2 separate regions of the Homo sapiens genome follow, and region 1 is linked to region 2. The links come from fine-mapping of genetic effects on gene expression. A gene starts in region 2. The other region holds a variant in brackets. All regions are shown on one strand. Distances are from middle to middle. Region 1 overlaps MTHFSD (methenyltetrahydrofolate synthetase domain containing). Region 2 holds the start of MTHFSD (methenyltetrahydrofolate synthetase domain containing).

Region 1 (10,754 bases), 22 kb after region 2:
CAGAGAGGAATGGTAGGACATGGCTACAGACTCCAGAACCTCAACTGTGCCGAAGGCAAGGCCAGCCTGAGTGGGAGACTGAGGGCTCAGGAGAAGCCACTCGGGCACCCACAAGCCTGTGGTCCCCGTCACCAGACCCACAAACCAGAGGGCCTTTTGGCCTTTGCCCAGTGGAAGGACTGTCAGTCACACACATCTTCTCACCCGTCCTGTGCTCCTCACCATCAGCACATGGCTCCTGATTACCACGGGGTTGGCGAGGACACCATAGACCAAGGCCCGTGCATCTGACTTTCCTGGGTCAACTCATTTGCTCCTTAATGAGGGAAACTGGATTCTTCCAGAGCCACGCTCGTGCTTATACTCAAGGAAACAATTCTGTAGCTTTCAAAGCATGGCCCGCTCTTCCCCACACAGCCTGCTGGGGAGTGTGGTTCTCAGATGGCCACAGTATGCTGCATGATCTACAGATACCTCAAGAAAAAGGATTTGAGAACAGGGCTCCTCTGTGAGCAGCAGTCCTGGGACAGCAAAGCCCAATTTCAGATCCCGCATAAAACACAATTGTTCTCTGCAAATAATGCAGCTAACTGTGAACCAACCCCTACCCACAACTGGGCCAGTATGTTTAGAGAGCTGAGAGAGGCTTTCATTGAAAAAGAATTACTGTATTTGACCTGATAATTTACCTTCTAGGAATCAGTCCTAGAGAAATATGTAGAAATTCAGATAAGGACTTATCTGAATCTCTATAGAAGACATGCAGTGCCTTAAAATGGGGGTGGGGGGAGTCCATTTAAGTGCATACAGCTTTTTAAAGAATATTTTGTGGCAGGAGAAAGTGCATGTGGTATAAAGTAGAAAAGGCACGATATGATATTATACATGCTTGATATGGAATTTCATATTCTGCTCATGTTAAAGGGCAGAGAGAAAAGACGGCGAGGAAATACAGCAGAATATTAACAGTAGTTGTCTCTGGGAGATAGGATTTCAAACGTTTCTACCTTCTTCCCAAATTTCCCACAACAAGCATATACTAATTTTATAATCAACAATATTTAGGAAAAAAATAGTAAATTTGTTCAATATTTTCCAAGGTAGACATTGCGCCCGGGTGCATTTGAACCCAGTCACACAGCAGCAAGGTAGCTATCTCTGTTCCCAGGGTACCCAGTTAGTAGAAATGAGAATTCAGAAATGAAAATAGTTAAATATGCGCCAGTTCTTAAAACTCACGCACAGACGTGTGTAGGGTGACACCGGAACAGCCAACACGGAAAGCTCAAGCATGTCTGCGTGAGGGGAACCACGCGGCTGCTCTTCTCCGAGGGCTGAAACCCCAAGTGCGGAAGTGAGACAGGAGCTGCTGGTCCCATGCAGGACTCTGTGCGGAGCAGGGGGAGGGAGGCAGCCACTCCCGCGGGCCTCGCAATGAGGGCCAGGCAGGAGCCAAGGCGTGCAGATGGAAGCTGGCATTTCGCAGCGTCAGTTTTAAGGTGATCATGTATACCAGGAAACAGAAATGTTTTTTACTAAATAGTTCTTAGTGACTTCCAGACCCCTCCCAGGTTGAGCCATCCCTTCCTGATGTTGGGGTACAGTCGAACGCAGCGCTGCCTGTGGTCAGGCCCCCTGTTGGGAGATGCAGGCCTTGCCCCTGCTGTCCGTCAGCACTCCCAGTCGAAGCGTGATTGTAAAGGGGTGGCCCTATTGAGCCTTTTTCTACCAACTGACACCTTTGATCAACTATGAACAAAAGGGTTTTCCATGAGCCACGTTGAAGAGATTCTGCCCTTAGAGAGCCAGCAGAGGCTTCGAGGCCTGCCTGGCGTTTATGTTTACGGAAGGCAGCACGGTCCCTTGGCCTTCCCTGTGCTCTCCTCTGAGCATACCTACTCCCTATGGTTATTTCACTGTGGCTATTTGGAAGTGTCTTAAAGCATTTTCCTCAGTGAACAACCAAATTTAGTCTCAGGCAAGAGAACTCATTATTTATGGAGGTTGAACTTAGTATTAGAAATACTTCTGATGTCTGCTCATCTTCACCAGCACGGCTCACGCCTATCATCCCAGCAGTTTGGGGGGCCATGGCAAGAGGATCACTTGAGCCCAGGAGTTCAAGACCAGCCTGAGAAACATAGCAAGATCCCGTCTTTACTGAAAATACAGAACTTAGCTGGGTGTGGTGGTGAGTGCCCACATGTAGTGCCAGCTACTTGGGAGGCTAAGCCAGAAGGATTACTTGGAGCTGGGTATTCAAGGCTGCAGTGAGCTATGAGTTGTGCCACTGTACTCCAGCCTGGGTGACACAGTGAGACCCTGTCTCTTAAAAAAAAAATGAGGGGGATTCAAAGATCATCCTCCCAGTTTCCTTATCTTCAGGTCAGGTAATGCAAGAGTGAGAAAGAAAAGCAGTTTATCCAAAATGGTAAGAGCAGCATGTAGCTGCCTTAAGATTGGAGCCCAGGTGTCTGCTTTTTTGAGCAGTTTCTGACTCTCAATCGGAAATCTTGAAAGTCAGATTTCGGATTCGTATTTGACTTAGCATGTCTAGGGGACAGGTTTTTAAACTTAAAGTTTATTCTATTTTTTTTTTTTAGAATAGAATTAGTTATAAAAAGGCAAAAATGTTTTCTCATGTTTGAGTAACAAGCATAATTTTTCACTTCACATGCCAGATTGACAGAATGTAACAACTATTCCTCATTGCCAGCCAGGAAACAGTAGCACTGCCATGCACTCATCCCAACCATGACGTCCAGACACCCTGCTGGCTGGCACACAGGAGGCTTTCTTGTCAGCTGTGGCAGGGATCGGCGTGGTCATCCAGCTGCTGGCAGAGTGGCAAAGCCGCCCCACAGCCATTAGAGCTTGAGGAGGAGGGAGCTGATGTGAAGCCTTGTCATCCTTTACCCACAAACACTGCTCATGAAAAGAGCGATTTTCCTGCAGTGGAACACACTTCCACATTTCCATTCTAACGGCCCCTGCGGATGCCAGTGTGCCAGTGCCCTGGCCGCCAGTTAGCTCATAATGTGTGGTTAAGATGTTTTCATTATTCTTCAGCCGATTGTATATTTGCTGGCTCAGAATAAAGGAGCTCCCTGTGATGTGCACGGAAGGATATATTTGTCTTTCCCACGGCATGTTTCAAAACAGATTTCTGCCGCAGAACCCCAAGTGTGAAGCCTCGCCTGAGAATGCTCGCTTCTGCCATAGGGAACCTTGAGGTGCTACTGGACACAGATGGGAGGGGAAATAACTCAGGAGGCAGGAGACTGGGCTGGCGCAGCTCCCGATGGACCCCATCAGAAGAGCAGTGCTTACCCGGAGGGTGCATCCTGCCCCCAAACCCCTACCCCTTACTGCACCCCTTACCTTGCCCCCACCCCACCCCACGGGATGCTCTCACCTCAAGGCTTCTGGTGCTGTACTCAGAGCCAAGTAACTTTCAGTTCTTCCAGATAAATGCATAGCCACACTTTTTCTGTCATTGCAATTGCATTTTTAAATTGTATCATCTGTTTCAATACTAAATCTGGTAATTTAAAAGATCCTTCAAAATCAAATGATGACCAGTTTATATCTGTTTTTACATGTTTCAAAAAAAACACAAAAGCCTGAACTTTCTGAGAAGGTGGAATAGAGGTGTAGAAAGAGGTTGGGGTGGTTGGGCTTAGGTCGTTCTCATTCTTCCCCTCCCATCTGTGTCCAGTAGCACCTCAAGCTTCCCTATGGCAGAAGCAAGCATTCTCAGGCGAGGCTTCACACTTGGGGTTTTGCGGCAGAAATCTGTTTTGAAACATGCCGTGGGAAAGACAAATATATCCTTCCGTGCACATCACAGGGAGCTCCTTTATTCTGAGCCAGCAAATATACAATCGGCTGAAGATTCCTTGGGCCTCAGAGCTGGTATGATACTGCTCTGTGAGTTTAGTCTCCTCACAGTGAATCAGTTGAGAAGGATGGCCGAGGGCCCAGTGGAAGAGAAATGCCTTGTGATTAGAAAAGAGCGCATCGTGGATATGTTCATGGCATAGACATGAGTTGTTTTCCTTTGTATCTGAACAATGGGAAATGTTGGCGCAAGTCTTTCTTTGCAGAGTCTTTCTATGACAGCCAAGAGTCTGTTTGCCATTCAAGACCAAAATGAGGCCATGTGCCTGCTACCTGCCAAGGCTTCTGACGTGGCAGTGCCAGGGAGCAGAGTGGCATCCCACCACAGAGGACTCTGACCAAAGCAAAAGCTTCGCCGGGAGGGGAGGTTACTTTCCACCCAGCACTGGGAGACAGAGCCAGGTATTAGATGAGAGAAGACTGAGAGCCTCTAGGTTTGCAGGAATGCACTTGGCTGTTCTTAGGTTTTTGTGTATCTTTAACTGTTACTCTAATTTATTGATGCTTAACTTGGGGCCTGTGTACTTCTTGTAGTTTGGAGGCCCATGAATAGTCTTTATCGACCCTGGGAAATTGTACAGAAAATTGTGGGTGAGTCATTCTTGGGAGGGAACCCCAGCTCCTCACAAAGGCTCCTCTCTCACCCTGCCAAGGATAAGGACCATTGCTCTAAATTACATATTATTCTGAATGTAATGAGAGCATTGATACTAGTTGAACTATTTCATCTTGTAGAACAATTTACAGTTGTCTAGCTCATGTGCTGCCCTGTACTGCGACATATTCACTTCTGTTGGAGGCCTGCAGGTGACCATGGCTTGCCTCTTGATGACCATGCTCATGTGAAAGCTTGGTGCCCAAAAGAAAAATAAAAAGCATCTCTAAAGAATGAGAATTGTCAAAAAGGACTACACAGTGTCTGTCTGTTTCTTTTTTGCACAGGGCACGGTGGTCCAGGCGTCACCTGACTTGTCCTGACCCATAGGCAGCCCCCAGTGCAAACTGCCCCACAGGACAGAGCCATCAGGCCTTCACCATTTAGGCTGCATCAAGCCAGTTCCAGTCTGTTCCAAGGGGCCCGCTGCCGTAGCTAATTGATTAGAAAAATCCAGATAAAGCCAAAGATGTCCTTTGTCTGCAAGTCGCATACAATTGAGACTTAAGTTTCGCATAGCGTTACTGATTTCATAGTTTGATGACCCATCGCTAGGAAGTGTTTTCAAAGCTGTGTTTCAGACTTGCCTTGCTTCTGCATTTTTGGCTGTGCATTGAAGGGGGTGACCCCTGAGAGACGTTCCTTCAGGGGAGAGGAGACCCCTGTGGTCTTATTAAAGTCCTCATCCCACCCAAAGGTACAGGTAGGGGGCAGATGCGGAGGCAGCTCCCCATTATTCTGGGGGGGTCATTAGGGGAGCTGCCTTTTGTGACCCTATAATCCCAATAGTAGCAATCTTAGGTGCCTCTTCTGGGTAGGAGGCCTGAGCAGAGAGCCCCAGCTTTACTTTCCTGCTTCTGGGCCTGGAGGAAAATGGAGGCCCAACCCTGCAGCCTCCACAGCTCGTGGCAAACGCTCCAGAGCCCCCGTGAGTGCTGACTTCCCTTAAGCCAGGGGCGAGGGGCAGAGCTACAGACTGGTGACATCGTCTGTGTGAGATAGTGGGTGGGACAGTGGGAGTCCCATGTCCCTGGGGCTCAGACCACTTGGCATCCAGTCCACGTGTGCAGCACAGCCAGTAGTCAGAGGTGTGGATGCGTGTGTGGCAGGTGCCCCTGCGATTCTGTCCCTGAAAGAGCTGCAACTGCTTTGCTTTTCAGATCAGCCTGGAGATGATGGAGAAAATCCCCATACTGAGGAGCCTCCGCGCCCGAGAGCAGCAGGCTGGGAAGGATGTCACCCTCCAGGGTGAGCACCAGCACCTTCCGGAACCAGGCTGCCAGCAGACAGTGCCCCTGAGTGTTGGCAGGAGGCCCCCGGACACACCCGGACCAGAAACCAATTCCATGGAGGCAGCCCCTGGCTCCCCACCAGGGGAGGGTGCCCCGCTTGCAGCCGATGTTTACGTTGGGAACCTCCCCGGGGACGCCCGTGTGAGTGACCTGAAGAGAGCCCTGCGGGAACTCGGCTCCGTGCCCCTGCGGCTCACCTGGCAGGGCCCGCGGCGCAGAGCCTTCCTCCATTACCCGGACTCTGCCGCAGCCCAGCAGGCCGTCTCCTGCTTGCAGGGCCTGCGCCTGGGCACCGACACCCTGAGGGTGGCGCTGGCCAGGCAGCAGAGGGACAAGTGACCTCGTGGACAGCCACGGAGCTCACTGCAGACTCGCCATCCCCGTCCCCTGCCGCTCCGGTTCCGATGGCACTCGAGAGGCCTGCGTGGCAAGACGTGTCGGAGCCACCGCCTGAGCTGCTCGGGTCTCAATTCTTCTCAGAAGTCACCGCTCAGTGAACGCCCAGGCCCTCCTGTGAGTGGGGAAGCCGCCCTGCGGTTCATCTCACAGCGCGCAGAGACTGCAGCCTCCCAATCGTGCAGGCTCGGGCCTTGAGTCGGTTTCTGTTTCTCTGGAGGGACAGAGCAGAGGGGCCAGGGACTGAGTGAGTGGCTAAGCAGGGGAGGGTGATGTGAAGGTGATCTCGAGTTTGCCAGGGGTGGGCTGAACAGGAGAAGATGAACAAAGGATCCGGCTCTCAAAAGGCCCTGGCAGGGACTGGATGCTGGGTACAGAAGCGCGCCCTTGGGCTTCAGGCTCCTGAGCTGGCAGCACGGCAGGGAGAGCTCCATCCATGTCGCAGGAGCCCAGGAAGCTCAGCCCCTGGGTAAAAAGTGCTCACTGCAGCTCAGATCAGTCCTCAGGTCACATTTCGGGGAGCCAGCCTCCCCTCTTCCCCTCCCCAGCCCCGCTCCTCCCTCTGTGGACACACTCCGGGCCCTCAGCCAGCTGGCTGCATGAGGAGCAGCTTTGTGCTGTGGGAGAGACCGGCTCTGGGAGAATGGGTTTCATCCCAGCCTACGTCACATTTGCCCAGTGCCTTATGTTTTCTGGGTTTTTTTCCTCCAGTTCTGTTTCTAAAAACCAGCTTGAGTTTGGCTGAACTGTCCTTTCTCAACAGAAGCGCTTTTGCAATTGATCCCGGGCAACAAGTCAAAATAAGCTTTTAAGTGGAGATTTTGTTTTTTTCAAATGTATATGCTTTGGAAATTTTGATTTTTTAGCCAGAGGGTTTTACCAAGTGTTCTTTGAAGCACATTACGATGCCTCGAGAGGGCGGCCCGTGCACGCGCTTTCAAGAAAATGTTCTCGGGACACTCGGTCTTCTCTTTGAAAGGACATTTTCTCATTGGTTTTGCCGTGAAAATCCTGTGGAGACTTCGCAAAGAAAACGCAGCCTTACATTTGCTCATTAAAGACAGATTTCCTTCCCAAGTCGCCATGAATAAAATGAGAGAGTAGAAACGTCTGGAAGCGCCACACCTGGCCCTGGGCCCTCGGCCCTCTGTGTCCTTGGCCTTGCCCCCGCCCGCACGGCTGGTCACGTTTGTCATTGGGCATTCAGCTCAGCGTCAGAGGCTGACTCAGTCCCCAGTTCAGAGTAGTCACCTGGTTACACTGAACTCCTCACCTTCTTTTCTCTCTTTTTT[T/A]AAAAAATACTTCTTTTTCTGAAAGATTCTTATTTTTTTTTTTTTGTTTACCTTTTTCCTGTGGATTTGCTGCCGTTAGAATAGCAACTCCAGGAGAAGAGCAAGTGAGTCAGCCCCCCTTCTCCACTCCCTGCCCCACCGGCAGTGGGCACAGCCCTGCAGACAGGAGCAAGGACTTCGGGGAATAGACCCACTGGGGCCGGGAGAGGGAGAAGCTGGATTCTGACCCCACCACTGGCACTCCTGTGTCCAGCCATGCCTGACGCCCACCCCACCCTCAGACGGCGGGATTAAACCAGGCAGTACAGGGTTACTCGGGGAAGCCAGACTGCTGGGATTTCCTGTCGCTTTAGCCAGAATAATCCAGGTATATGGATATACAGATAATCTGAAAGAGTTTCTCATTTTTATATTTGTGGAACATCGTGTAAGAAAAACTGAAGAGCAAGTGCCTGAAATAAAATCCCCCACATGTATCAGCCTGCACACCTTTCACTGCCCTGTCCTTCCCAGGGAGGCCTGTGGGGACAGTTCCCAAGGAGCGTGGTGAGCAGGCAGCAGTGAGGCAGGTGCTCAACAACCCAACTTCTTGTTCCCACGGCTCAGCATCGGGATTGTGTCACTCACACGTGATAAGGGGAGAATGGAAGACAACCACTTGACAACTGCTGAGACCATCCCTCTTATTTTTATATCTGTTATTATTATTTTTTGAGACAGGGTCTTACTCTGTCACCCAGGCTGGAGTGCAGTGGTGTGATCACAGCTCACTGCAGCCTTGAACCCCCAGGCTCGAGCCATCCTCCCTCCTCAGCCTCCACGTAGCTAGGACGACAGGTGTGCACCACCATGCCCAGCTAATATTTTTTAGTAGAGATAGGGTCTCCCTATGTTGCCCAGGCTGGTCTCAAACGTCTGGCCTCAAGCAATCCTCCCACCTTGGCCTCCGAAAGTGCCGGGATTACAGGCATGAGTCACTGTACCTGGCCTGTACCCTTCTTTCTGAGACAATCTCACTCTTGCCCAGGGTGGAGCGCAGGGGTGCAAACTCAGCTCACTGCAACCTCCACCTCCTGGATTCAAGCTATTCTCTTGTCTCAGCCTCCTGAGTAGCTGGGACTACAGGTGCGCACCACCACGCCTGGCCAATTTTTTTTTTTTAAGTAGAGATGGAGTTTCATCATGTTGGCCAGGCTGCTCTCCAACTCCTGACCTCAAGTGATCTGCCTGCCCTGGCCTCCCAAAGTGCTGGAATTACAGGCATGAGTCACTGTACCCGGCCTGTACCCTTTTAAATGAAGCCGTCGTGATTCATGGGTCCTATCTTGGTATCTTCCTAAATGGTGGCGTGGTTTTGCCAGTGGATGAGAAAGACTTGTGCAGAATCTGCAGCTGCAGTTTCCAGAACACATACCTTTGGCTCTGCAACAGTGAGCGCTGGACTCTGGAGCCCAGTAGCCCAGCTCTCACTGCGGGGTGTGGTCCTAGGTGGGTGCTGTGGGCAGGTCACCTACCTGTGCAGGTTTTGGCTTAAGGGGTTGAACTCCTTGGTTTCTAAAGTTCTTACCAGTTCTAATATTCTGAGTTTATTTTGAGACTAACTAGTCCCCATCCCTTAGGTTTTTTGGTTGTCTAATTCCTTCTAGAAATTTTAGAATATGAGAAGGATAAAGAAGGAGCACCACTTGGGCAACCTTGACATTGCCCCTTATTTATTTCCAGGCTTTCTTCTCTGCAGTTTTGAAACATAGCCACGATTAACAACAGGAGCTTCGGAAGCCAGCAGACGTGGCTTTCAGCGTCAGTGCTGCCGCCGTGTGGTGCGGTGGGTGTGCGGTGGCAGCTGCTTCATCCCTCTGAGCCTCCCATTGCTCATCTGTAAGGGGGTGCGGTAGGAGCACACACTGCGGGTTGTGTGAACGTTAGCCGAAACGATGTGCCTGAGGTGCACGGTCACAGCTCAGCGGTGCGCCCGCTGCTGAGGCCAGTCGGCCTGGCCGCCCCAGACCCACTGATTGCCCCCCAGACGGAGGACTTCACTCTCCAAAGGGGTGAGACTGAGGACTCAGCCAGAGGTCCTGCCTGGTGCCCTTGTGTCAAGAGTGGACCCTGGGGCAGAAGTGGTGGTGATGGCCCTGGAGCCATTTCCCAGGTGACAGGGCTGACACGGGAGCCGAGCCCTGGGGAACGTGGGCTGAGAAGCTGGAGCACTGGGCGAGCTCTAGGAGGCTCCTTTGGGCACAGCAGGTGGGAAACGCAGGAAGGAGCCTCCGTTCCTGCTCCAGGAGGGAGGTCAGGTGTCATCTGGCCCCAGCTCACTGGCTTCACCCAAACAGGTGGAGGCGTGTGTGACCTGAGTTCCCCATCTGGGTGAGCCTGGCCACACCCCTCCCCAGCCCTCAGATGGCCGGTCACTGAACTGGAAACGGGCCCCTCCGGGTTGAGCTCTGAAAGCCTGCACCACACGCAAGTCGGAACGCGAGACCTAGGAAGCACCCGTGGGCCTCGTTCCTGGGCAAATATGAAATCGATACAATTGAATAAATAGAAAACAGATCAACATGGGGCCTTTGAGAGACTCAAAGTGAAGGAACTACATCGTGAAAAAGCTTCACTGCAGGAATCGAGAAAATCTCAGGCATCATCCGCTCCTTACTCCTGAGACATGTGAGACGGTTTTCCATGAAAAAAAGTTGTGTTGATGAAGTGTCCTCGAAACTTTATTTAAAAAAAGGTTTTTTAAAAAGGAAAATGTGTCATTTTTTGCTCGTGTCTGCTCTGATCTTAAAATACACAGGAAAACATGAGCTCTAAAAATAGAAGTCCTGTGAGGTGGGTGAGGATCCTAAACAGAGCCTGCAGACAGCAGAAATAAAAAGCTCAGCAGGAGGGGTGGTGATGTTTTTAAAAATACAAATGCATACTCACAACATCAACATTTGTATTAGAAGACGTGATGTGTAGGGAGAAAGAAAATCTGTGAGCAGTAAGACGAGAGTTCTGGAGACCAGGCGGTGGCAAGCCACAGCCAAGCCCGGTGTGGAAGGCAAGACCGCACCAGCATTCAGAAACACGACAGGAGGACGTCCCTGGGCTGCGGAGGCAGCATCTGAGCCAGGGCTTCTCCACACACCTGTGGCAGGAGTCTGGGCCTCGTCTACAGATACGAGCAGGCAACAAGGAGCTGCCGAACATCAGCATCTTGAGACACGTGCTAGC
Region 2 (11,243 bases):
ACCCGGGAGGTGGAGGTTGCGCTGAGCTGAGATCGCTCCATTGCACTCCAGCCTGGGCAACAAGAGCAAAACTCCATCCCCCCTACCGCCCCCCCCAAAAAAAAAGAATTAGGGACTTGGAAATTAGAGGAGATTTAAAAAGTTAAATGAAAAACATCCATAATGGTGTATCCATGAAGCCATGACTTCTGACCACACACAACTTAATGTGTATGAGATTTGAGTTTTTTATATCACTAACTTGAACCCCTGTGATTAACCCTGTGGGGTACATGGACTCACCGTAATGGCCTGTGGAAAGCAGGCTGCCCCTGGGGAGGTCAGAGAGGACTTCAGTGTTTGGACAATGACAGGTTGAGAAAGAGGCGAGGGGGACGATTTAATTTTCATCAAATGCGCAGCCTGTAGGATGGGTGTTCTGAGCCCCAAGGAATAAGCCAGGCTCAAAAGCCACAGTCTGGGAGCAGCTTCAGCCAGTGCTTCCAGTAACCACTGGGACTAGGGCTGGCGCCCACAGTGGCATAACTGAGTGGGACCCCAGTGGGTCTCACTGAATAAGACCAAGAGTGCAGAGCGCTCTCCCAGGGGAGTCCGACCACCACTGTCACTGGGTGCTGTCCACCTCTAGGAGTCCGTAAAAGCCAAGAACACTCCCTGGCCCTGGCCCCCACCTCTGCCTGTGTGCATCCCGACATGGGGCTTGCATGGCCAGCCCAGCCTGGACCCACCGCATGGCCTTTGGGCCTGCTGTGCCCCGGGCCTGGTCCCTCATCTCAATTCTTTGCCCCCTTGCCCCCTCCTCCGAGGCCTCCCCCAGCCATCCGCTTACCTTGCCCCCCCCACCTCCCCCTTTCTCCTCACTCATGTTCTCAGTGGCACAGGCTCCCCTGCCTGGTGTGGTCTCATTCAGTCTTCTATCTGTTGTTTGCCTCACCACCCCCATACAGGGAAGACAGGCAGGGGCCTGGTCCGCCCTGTGCACAGCTCTGCTTGACACAGACTCCATGAGACTCCATGTTCTTTTTTTTTTTTTTGAGACAGAGTTTCGCTCTTGTTGCCCAGGCTGCAGTGCAACGGTGCAATCTCGGCTCACCGCAACCTATGCCTCCCAGGTTCAAGTGATTCTCCTGCCTCAGCCTCCTGAGTAGCTAGGATTACAGGCATGTGCCACCACGCCCAGCTAATTTTGTATTTTTAGTAGAGACGGGGTCTCTCCATGTTGGTCAGGCTGGTCTCGAACTCCCGACCTCAGGTGATCCTCCCGCCTCGGCCTCCCAAAGTGCTGGGATTACAGGCATGAGCCACCGTGCCCGGCCACAGACTCCATGTTCTTAACTATACATTGAACAAATGGGGCTTCAGAGATACGCAGCCCTCCCCCACTTCACTGCCTGCCCAACCGTAACTCACAGGCCTTGCCTCCCATTTGTGGCTCAAGCCCAGGATTTGTTTCAAACATTTACTAGCACTTATTTTAGGCAGACACTGCATAAGAAATGGGGACTCATCGTCAAGTGCTCCCTGGCTCCCAAGCTGTGGCAGGCGCATGGATGATGACAGGCTGAAACTTTATTTTAGGTCAATGCTCGTAGAGAGCTCTCCCTGCATTCTAGGTGCTGTTCTCCGGGCCGCATGGATCCGGCACTTCACCGTCACCAGCGTGGAGAGGCGGATGCCAACGGTGCTCCTATCTCCACTCCGCAAATGAAAAGCAAGGCACAGAGACGTTCAGTGACGCCCCCGGCCTCACGCAGCTAGAGAGCTGCAGACCTGGGATTTGAACCAGCCAGGGAGCAGGCTCAAACCTCCACCGCGGTGCCGTCCCTGCCGCAGGATGGTGCAGGGAGGGAGGGGCCAGGCTGAGCAAGCTCAGAAGAATGAGTAAGGGGGGACGAGGCCGTGTGAGTTTCTTGGAGAAGTTGGCAACAGACTGGGGGCCCTTTCGGCTTGCCAGCTTGAACAAATGAAAATAACAATGCCCACAGACTGCATGGAACGTGCTTATACTAAAAATGAAAAAAAAAATCGCTTTATCTGAAGTTCAAGTTTAACTGGGAAACCTGTATTTAATCTGGCAACCTCTAATGTGAGGGAAAGAATTCTTCAAATACCTTTTCAGTTATTAGCTTATTAAACAATCTTACATTTTGTTAAGTTGGTTGGTGCAAAAGTAATTGCGGTTTTTGCCATTACTTTGAATGTAGATTGAAAGTATAACTGAAGCTACTGGATGTAGTTTCGGAGAACTATGATGTTTAAAGTTCACCGTAAAAGGGAACACAGCTTGGAGATTCAGAGCCACGCTCTTCATGCCTAGGCAGACTCACCATTTCTACGCTATTCCTTCCAGCCAGGTTCTAAAAGATGCCTGTGACAAGCTTTGCAATCCTCCGTGAACCCGCACAGGAATAGTTATAGCAGGTTTCTGTGTATTTGCTAAAACGTAGGGGCAACTGAGGGGTCCTGCAGTGCGTGAATGGATAAACCGTGGGACACCAACACGATGGAATATTACTCAGCACTAAAAAGAGAGGACCCTCCGGCCATGGAAAGACATGGAAGAACCTTAAATGCATATTACTAAGCGCGAGAAGCCTGTTTGAAAAGGCTACATAGTGTATGATTCCAATTATTGACTTTCTGGAAAAGAAAAAGCCATGGAGAAAGAAAAGAGACCAGTAACTGCCAGGGGTTAGCAGGCAGGCAGGGAGGGAGGAAGAGGCAGAGCACACAGGATCTGTAGGGCAGTAAAAATATTCTGCCTGATACTCCAGGGATGGGCACATGCCATTATGCATTTGTCAAAACCCCAGAACATACAGAAAGCCTGAGCTCTAATGTAAACCATGGCTGTTGGATGATAACAATGTATCAGTGTAAGTTCATTGTAACAAATGTACCATTCCACAGCAGGATGTTGATAGTGGGGGAGGCTGTGTATAAATGCAGCCGCAGGGGTTGTATATGGGAACTCTCTGTACTTTCTGCTCAATTTTGCTGTGAAGTAAAACTTTTCTTTTTTCTTTACTTTGAAACAGTCTCGCTCTGTCGCTCAGGTTGGAGTGCAGTGGCGTAATCTTGGCTCACTGTAACCTCTGCCTCTTGGGTTCAAGTGATTCTCCTGCCTCAGCCTCCTGAGTAGCTGGGATTACAGGCGCGAGCCACCACCCCCAGCTAATTTTTTGTATTTTTAGTAGAGATGGGATTTCACCATGTTGTCCAGGCTGGTCACAAACTCCTGACCTCAATTGATCTGCCCACCTCAGCCTCCCAAAGTGCTGGGATTACAGGTGTGAACCACCACTCTTGGCCAAACCAAAACTTTTCTAAATGATAAAATCTACCAAAACAAAAAAAAATCCTGAAGTGCCCAAATGCAAATTTACACATATGATTGAGTTTTAAGTATTTGAGTTAAGGTTCAATAGCATCTTCTTTTTTTAAAATTTTATTTTAAGTTCCAGGATACATGTGCAGGATGTGCAGGTTTGTTACATAGGTAGTAAATGTGTGCCATGGTGGTTTGCTGCTCCTGTCAACCCATCACCTAGGTATTAAACCCCACATGCATTAGCTATTCATTCTGAAAGCATCTTCCTTTCATAAAAGAGCCAGTTGATTTTTTCTAAGGGGTCTCTTATTACTACTATTTATTATTTTTATTTATTATTATGTTTTTCAAAGAGGAGTTCTGGCTGTGTCGCCCAAGTGGAGTACAGTGGTGCCATTATAGTTCACTGCAGCCTCAAACTCCTGGGCTCAAGTGATCCTCTGCCTCACCCCCTCAAGGAGCTGGGGGTAAATGCTCTGAGGCACTTCTAACTTGAAAACATGGAACTGAAGAGAATGCCCTTCCTAGCACCACCTGCTTTCTAAAATTGCCACTGGCAGATTGTCCCTGGCGTCTCGTTACCATCTGGGGGCCGTGCCAGGCTGACCATCGGAGAGACTTGGGCTCTGTTTTGAGCACAGCTGGGTAACAGAATCCTGCACACACTTCCACTACTGGCACCAAGTCTACTTGCATAAAACACTCTGCAGATCTACTGTGCTTCCATGAAAGGCGGAAAGGACATCCAACCTCTGTGAGAGATTTTATTTTATCACCTCCAAAATGATGTTTGCACTGCTTTTGCCAGCCTGGTGAAAGACAGGCCCGCCCACAAGCAGAACTGAGGCTCCTCGGTGTCTCTATGTATTAATGTTGCGGACACCACATAGGAAGAGAGAGTTGTGATGGGACCCACAGGAGTTGCAATTAAGCACGTTGTCAGGGCTACACGCTCTGCCCTTTCTCTGCTGGGAGACTCAGGCCAAGCTTCTTTAACATGTCTGAGCCTCTGTTGCCTCCTGCGTAGGAGGCGGGTCACATTTGCCTCTGAGGGTTTGCTGTGAAACATAGTTAGCTATGACTTTTAAGGCGCTAAGCTCAATGCCTGGCATATCGTAGCACTGTTAATTACCATTATTAATTATGTCCTAAGGAGGTCAAACGGCACATTATGAGTTACCAGCAGACATGAGTAAGTCGCTTGTACACGGAACACCATTTTCTGTATCTGTTAAGTAGGCGGGCATTCAAACTCTTTTGTCTGTTTCCCAAGTGTGTTGTGAGGATCTCATAAAGTTTTGGGCATGCAATTTCGAAAGGTGGCAGCCACGTTTTGAGTGCTTGTGATGTACCAGGCACGTGGCTACGGGGATGCCTTCATTCGCTCAGGGAGTGGTTCCTAGTGGCTGGTCCCTGACATCTGTGTGTGTGCTGGGTGGGGGTGTGGGATGTCTTCTTCCTAATAAGTGAATGAACTGCCAGGCTGAACGCCCTCGTTTTCTTCCCGCGGGGCTGGGGCCAGAGAGGGAATGGACGTGACGGTCTGTGCAGCCTGGTCTCCTCGAGCCGCTTCTCGACCCTTAGGTTAGCAAACATGAAAGACATAGACAAGCAGACGCAGGCTGCCACGTTCGTTCTTTCTCAGGGTATGCAGAGGTCAGGGTAAGAATCCACGGGTGTTTCTCAAAGGATGGCCTCTGGCCGTCCGCAGCGCAGTCGCCGGGGCTGGGCTGGCCTCGAATTTCCATCTGCCTGCCGCTTTAAAGAGCTGCCGGCTGAATCCGCTGCACACCCACGTGTGAGCACCTGAGAGTCTGCAGGATCTCAGAGGAGGGAACCGCGTCCTACATGAGGAGCAATCAAGGCCGGCTTTCCGGAGGAGGCGGCCTCTAGGACTGGAAGAGGAGGCGGGATGTGTTTCAACCGGCAATGGGTCCCGAGAGACCAGGGACTTGTTCACTTCAGTAACTCCAGGGCTTGGCAAAACGCCTGTCACGGGCGGCGCTCGACAATGACTAGCTGAAAGCAAGAGCGAAGGGCCTGGGAGCATCCCTGACTGTCCCCGGCGCGGATTTTACCCGCCCGAGCATGCGCGCCTGGGCCTCGCCCGCTCAGCCTCCGCCCCTCCTACCATCGCGCAGGCGCGGAGCGGGTGACGTCACTACGCGCCAGAACCTGCGCCGGGAAGCGTCGCACAGCGACTGCATCACCATGGAGCCGAGGGCAGGTGGGGGGCCTGGCGGGGCTCCGGGGCGGCTGGGAATGGGGAGGGACAGCCGGGACCGGTGAGGGTCGAGGCGGGGCCACCGGGGCTGGCAGAGGATGGGGCAGAATCACCGGAAGCGGCCGAGGAGGTCAGAGGGGGTCTGTGCTGGGTTCGGGTCGAACCAGCGGCTCTCTCGCCCGGAATCCCGAGAAAGATGTCAGGAAAAATAAAGATAACGAGAAGACGAGGCGGGAGGGACACCTGCCGTGCACGTGGGGGAGCCCGTGGGCCCCTTGAGGTCGGGGAAACTGAGGCTCAGGAACAGGATCGGAAGCCGGTTTGACCTACACGCGGGGGTCGCTTAACTACTGTTAAGCGGTTTCAGCATGGGCTCTGGAATTCCTTTGTATGTTATTAAGTGGGAATCTTTTGTTGCAGTAGGTGTCTCCAAACAGGACATACGTGAACAAATTTGGGGCTACATGGAATCACAAAATTTAGCTGACTTTCCCCGACCTGTTCATCACAGGATACCCAACTTTAAGGTACTGACATATTTCTGGAGTCCAGAAAAGGAAAACAAAATATTCTTAAATGAATAACACTAGTAATAAAATTCTCTTACTGCGTCATGGTGGATGAGAATGTGGCGAGCAGTGAGCAGTGGTGTGAAATCAAAGCCATTTGGCCAGGGCGTCCTTAGCATTTAGAGACGTCATTTACTCTTCACCTGGGGCCTCTTGCGTCTCTGTGCAGGGTGGTTTGGTTGTCTCTAGGTGAGGTTGTGTCCAGAATTGGTGGGTTCTTGGTCTCACTGACTTCAAGAATGAAGCCTCGCAGTGAGTGTTACAGTTTTTAAAGGCAGCGTGTCTGGAGTTTGTTCCTTCTGATGTTTGGATGTGTTCAGAGTTTCTTCCTTCTGGTGGGTTCACGGTCTTTGCTGGCTTCAGGAGTGAAGCTGCAGACCTTAGCAGAGAGTGTTGCAGCTCACAAAGGCAGGGTGGACTCAAAGAATGAGCAGCAGCAAGATTTATTGCAAAGAACAAACCTTCCACAATGTGGAAGGGGATTGGAGAGGGTTGTTGCTGCTGGTTCAGGCAGCCTGCTTTTAATCTCTTATCTGGCCCCACCCACATCCTGCTGATTGGTCCATTTTACAGAGAGCCGATTGGTCCGTTTTGACAGGATGCTGATTGGTGCGTTTACAATCCCTGAGCTAGACACAAAAGTTCTCCACCTCCCCACTAGATTAGCTACATACAGAGTGCCCATTGGTGCATTCACAAACTCTGAGCTAGACACAGGGTGCTGATTGGTGTGTTTACAATCCCTTAGCTAGACATAAAGATTCTCCAAGTCCCCACCAGCCTCAGGAGCCCAGCTGACTTCACCCAGCAGATCCCGCACTGGGGCTGCAGGTGGAGCTGCCTGCCAGTCCCGTGCAGTGCACCCGCACTCCTCAGCCGTTGGGCAGTGGATGGCACCAGGCACCGTGGAGCAGGAGCGTCGCTCCTCGGGGAGGCTCTAGCTGCACAGGAGCCCGCCGGTGGGGGTGGGGAGGCTCAGGCATGGCAGGCTGCAGGTCTTGGGGAGGCAGCTAAGGCCCGGCGAGAAATAGAGCACAGCAGCTGGTGGCCCAGGTGCTAAGCCCCTCACTGCCCAGGGCCAGCCGCTGTGAGTGCGGGGCTCCCCACGCCTACATGGAACTCGCGCTGGCCCACAAGCACCATGCACAGCAGCAGTTCCCGCCCGCGCCTCTCCCTCCACACCGCCCAGCAAGCTGAGGGAGCCGGCCTGGGCCAGTCCAGAAAGGGGCTCCCACAGTGCAGCTGCGGGATGAAGGGCTCCTCAAGCACGGCCAGAGTAGGCGCCAAGGCCGAGGAGGCGCCGAGAGGGACCGAGGGCTGCCAGCACGCTGTCACCTTTCAAGGTGGTGCTAGTTGCTGTTTTCTGTTTGATACAAAGTAAAATATTTATCCTGGCCGGAAGCATGTTATTGTCGTAATGGCTTTTCACAAAATTGACCCTGCTAAGAGCGTTAGGGAATGAAGGGGTACTGAACTGGAAGTTCAGGCTCTAGGCCTTTGGAAAGAAATGAATGCCTTGCCAGCCTAAGGATGCTGGGCCTCAGTTTCCCAGCTGATCAAAATGTAAGACAATCAAAGATGGCTGTTCCTAACAGTGTTGACAGAAAAAAAAAAGGTTACTCGGAAGAGGCAATGCAGCAGTTCATCATCTTTGACATGCCTATTTTCCAAGAGCAAAAGAAAGCGCTTTTCAAAAATGCTCTCTGCCCTGAAGGACTTAGCTGTTGGCTTGCTTCACCCCATTTTGTCAGGACTGCCTCTCCCCAAGCCTGGCTTCTCCACAACAAGCTCCACCTTCCCTGGTCCTCAGCTGAGGTGGTTCCAAGACTGTCCTGTCCCTTTGAAAAACTGATCTTTTGATGGTTTTTTGTTGTTACTGTGTTTTGTTTTAATGCTTCTGACCCCAGAGAGAGAAATGTATCTTAACAGAGGTAAAGATGAAGGATGTAGAGAATCATGTAGAAATCTTTAAAAAACGAATCAAACAGGAGAGAGGTGGGGGCTTCCAGGTCATGCTACTGCTTGATTTTGGTGGTGGTTACACAGCAGCCTTCATTTTGTGAAAAATCATCAAATTTTGCCCTTGGGATTTGTATTCTTTTTGGAATGCATGTTTCATTTCAGTTAAAGCTCAAGTGGGATTAGGCTACTTTTCTCAAATCCCTTTCCTTACTTAGACTGCTTCCTTAGATGTTTCTTTGGGTGACTGTTAGTGCCTGTCTGGGTGAGATTCTGGGCCGAGCTGCTTGGGCTGCAGTTGGCCTGAGAGCGTGCTGTCCTTTCAGTAACGTGCGATTGCATTGGAAACAGGGCGCTTCTCATGCTGCCGAGCAACTCCCACGCTTGCAGGCGTTCAAAACGGCCAGGACCATTAAAGTAAATCCTGATGCCCCCCAGAAAAGTGCTCGCTTCTTCGTCCTTGAAGTAAGTGCAACTCTGTCTATTTGCCTAACTAGGGGTCTTATCTGGCTTGCCAAAACATCAAAGACCTAGACGTTTTTGCCAGAACACAGGAAGTTAAAGTGGACCCTGATAAACCACTGGAAGGCGTTCGGCTGCTGGTGCTGCAGGTAATTCCACTTCCCTGAGCCGAGCCGAGACCTGGCCGCCAAGGGGGACACCTTTTCCAGGTAGCTGGTCAGTGCACACGTCTGTCTTGCATTTAGAAAGTCGGTGCTTCCGATTCCCTCCAATACAGAAAGTGCCCTTGGTGGTGATTTTTCCAAGAATAGTTCAGAAGCCCTTCAGCTGTTTAGCAATTCAGTCAATCAGGAGTCCCGAATGCTTCTAAATTCAGAGATAAAGGATGTTCAAAACAATGGCTTCCAGGCCCAGTTGGCACAGGAGAGGGAACCCAGGCAGAACCTGTGGTGTTCCAGAATTGAGGAGCTGGAGCTGAAATAGATGACACCACTTTGCCATTTGAAATGAGCATGCTAACAAGCTTGCTGAACACAGAATCATTTGCTTCTGGATGACAGACGGTCACTTGTCATGTTCTGATACTATAAAGACCACGGTTAAGAACTGGAAAGGTTTCTTCTCAACACTGCTGAACTTTTTAAATTCAGGCATGCTTTTGTAATTTTTATTTTTTAACTTCCTAACCAAACAAACACAAAAACTATGGCGTTGAAGCATTCTCAGTTTTGATGTGCTTCATCAGAGGAGGAAGATTACAAGGAAGATTTAGTTCTTTTTGCCACAGTTGTGGTATTATGATGCTTTGAAACATGATAAATCACGAGTAAGAAGTCTGATGTACCCTCAAAAGGTATCGGTTAGAGCACTTGTTCCTCAACTGAAAACATACAGGCCCCTTTTCAAGGAAAACCAGAAAACTCCCCCAGGGTTGATTTAAATTAGTTTATTATAAACTAATTCAATATGATAAACATAAAACTTGGTATAAATTTTAATGCAGATAGCTTTTATGTAACTATAAAACCAAAATAAGCATATAAGTTAAATACAAACAAAACTATAAAATCAGTAACATTCAAATGGCCCCATTAATTTAACGTAATGGTTGATATGGTTTTGCTGGAGCAAATCGCAGCTGATAACATGAGTATAGTACTGGCCATCTCAGGGCAGAATCGTTGTCATTCTGCCTTAACGCTGCCATGCGTTGTGTGCTGACTCCATTCTCCCACCCAAGTTGCCAAGTCAGACTCCTGAGAAGCCCTGGTGAGAGGGGCACTTTCCACACCTCTTGCCGGAGCTGAGAGGAGGGGTCCAGGCTCGTGTGGGAGATCATTTTGTCTGCTGATGGTGGTTCAGCCCCAAGAGAGACTTCCATGTAGGCTCTTCCAGAAGCATAGCTTCCTGTCAGCCTTATTTTCCCAGTTAATGAATCATTTTAATAAGCTAGAAGTAGTAATAGCAGCAGTAGCAAGGAAGGACGGCAGTCGGCAGTCACTGCATTCGAGGCGCAGTTCTGTCTAAATGTTTTCCCTGTATTATGTGGTTTGGTTCTCTACTACTATGGGAGCCATCTCTGCTCCTCTGTGACACTTGAAACCAGAGACAGAGAGGCTCCACCTCAGGTTACCGCACATCAGTCTCAGTACAGCCAGGATTCTGACTCAGCCACCTGACTCCAGAGCCAGTCCTTGCAAGTGTGAAGTTCAGGGTGTTCTCAGCTGTCAGCCCCTCAGAGCAAAAATCAGAAACCTTGACCGTGTGGTCAGCCTTAGCCAAGATGGCCTGGAAGAGGGGTGCAGCCCTGAGCAAATCCCTGTTGCTTCATGCCATCATTTATTCAGGCTGAAGAAACAACTGCATAAGTAACTGAGCTATCTCCCAGGCTGCGTGCTGGGCATAGGATGTAGTGGTGCAAGACTACACACATGTGGTCCCTGAGTTCTGGTGCTTTCAGGGTCCTCAGTGGTTTTTGGAAACTTTAAGGGACTTAAGGATCAGCTGGGATGCAGGTAAAGATGCAAGTTCCTGAGCCCCAGCTGCATGTGGGCAGGCAATGGTGACATGCACAGCCTCAGGCCACACCTACAGGCACAGCAGCCAGTGTCTGACTGGACAGTCCGCAGTGCTGGGGGCACGCACAACCTCAAGCCACAGCTACAGGCACAGTGGCCAGTGTCTGACCGGACAGTCCGCAGTGCTGGGGGCATGCACAACCTCAAGCCACAGCTACAGGCACAGTGGCCAGTGTCTGACCGGACAGTCCGCAGTGCCGGGGGCATGCACAGCTTCCCAGGCCCAACCCCAGACCTGTGAGTCTCTAAAGTGGCATCAGATTCTGTTCAATCAGTACTCCGAGGGTGCTCCAAGTACACAGGCTTAAGCCCCACTGGCTTAGGTGCCACTTGCCAGCTCTGGCCACATGGTGGTATCACTCAAGGAGGTTTGAAGACTGTTGGCCATGCCAGGTTCCAGTCTCTGGAGTGAGGTCTAGACCTCGGTAATTCTTAAAGCTTGCTGGTGATTCTAATGCACACTAAAGGCTGAGATCCACTGAGCCAGAGGATGAGCAGCTTCTAGAAAAGAGAGAGTGATCCCCATATGTGGGGCACAGGACTCCAACACTGCCCATGAGGGAGCCACACTCCACCACTCCCAGAAAAGCAGCAGGCCGCAGTCACAGCTGCCTGTGTTG

Evidence for each region. PIP is the estimated chance that this variant, and not a neighbour inherited with it, causes the effect.
Region 1: its variant is the best candidate, but not a certain one, in a credible set for the expression of MTHFSD in whole blood (INTERVAL, PIP 0.79).

What each region holds. Positions count from the first base shown.
Region 1 is chr16:86,527,443-86,538,196 of GRCh38, reverse strand. It overlaps MTHFSD (methenyltetrahydrofolate synthetase domain containing), which reads left to right. Exons shown (of 8, transcript NM_001159377.2): 8 at 5,716-8,011. The coding sequence ends at 6,186. Among named protein-coding and RNA genes, the nearest start is that of FOXF1, 22 kb to the right of the region's middle. RefSeq lists an enhancer at 10,160-10,754. The variant T/A (reference allele first, on the strand shown) is at 7,536.
Region 2 is chr16:86,549,484-86,560,726 of GRCh38, reverse strand. It overlaps MTHFSD (methenyltetrahydrofolate synthetase domain containing), which reads left to right and starts at 5,492. Exons shown (of 8, transcript NM_001159377.2): 1 at 5,492-5,558; 2 at 5,976-6,082; 3 at 8,581-8,694. The coding sequence starts at 5,543. FLJ30679 (a long non-coding RNA gene) reads right to left here and starts at 5,407. Exons shown (of 1, transcript NR_026674.1): 1 at 3,428-5,407. RefSeq lists enhancers at 5,210-5,499, 5,540-5,589, 6,558-7,220, 7,221-7,885 and a silencer at 5,422-5,635.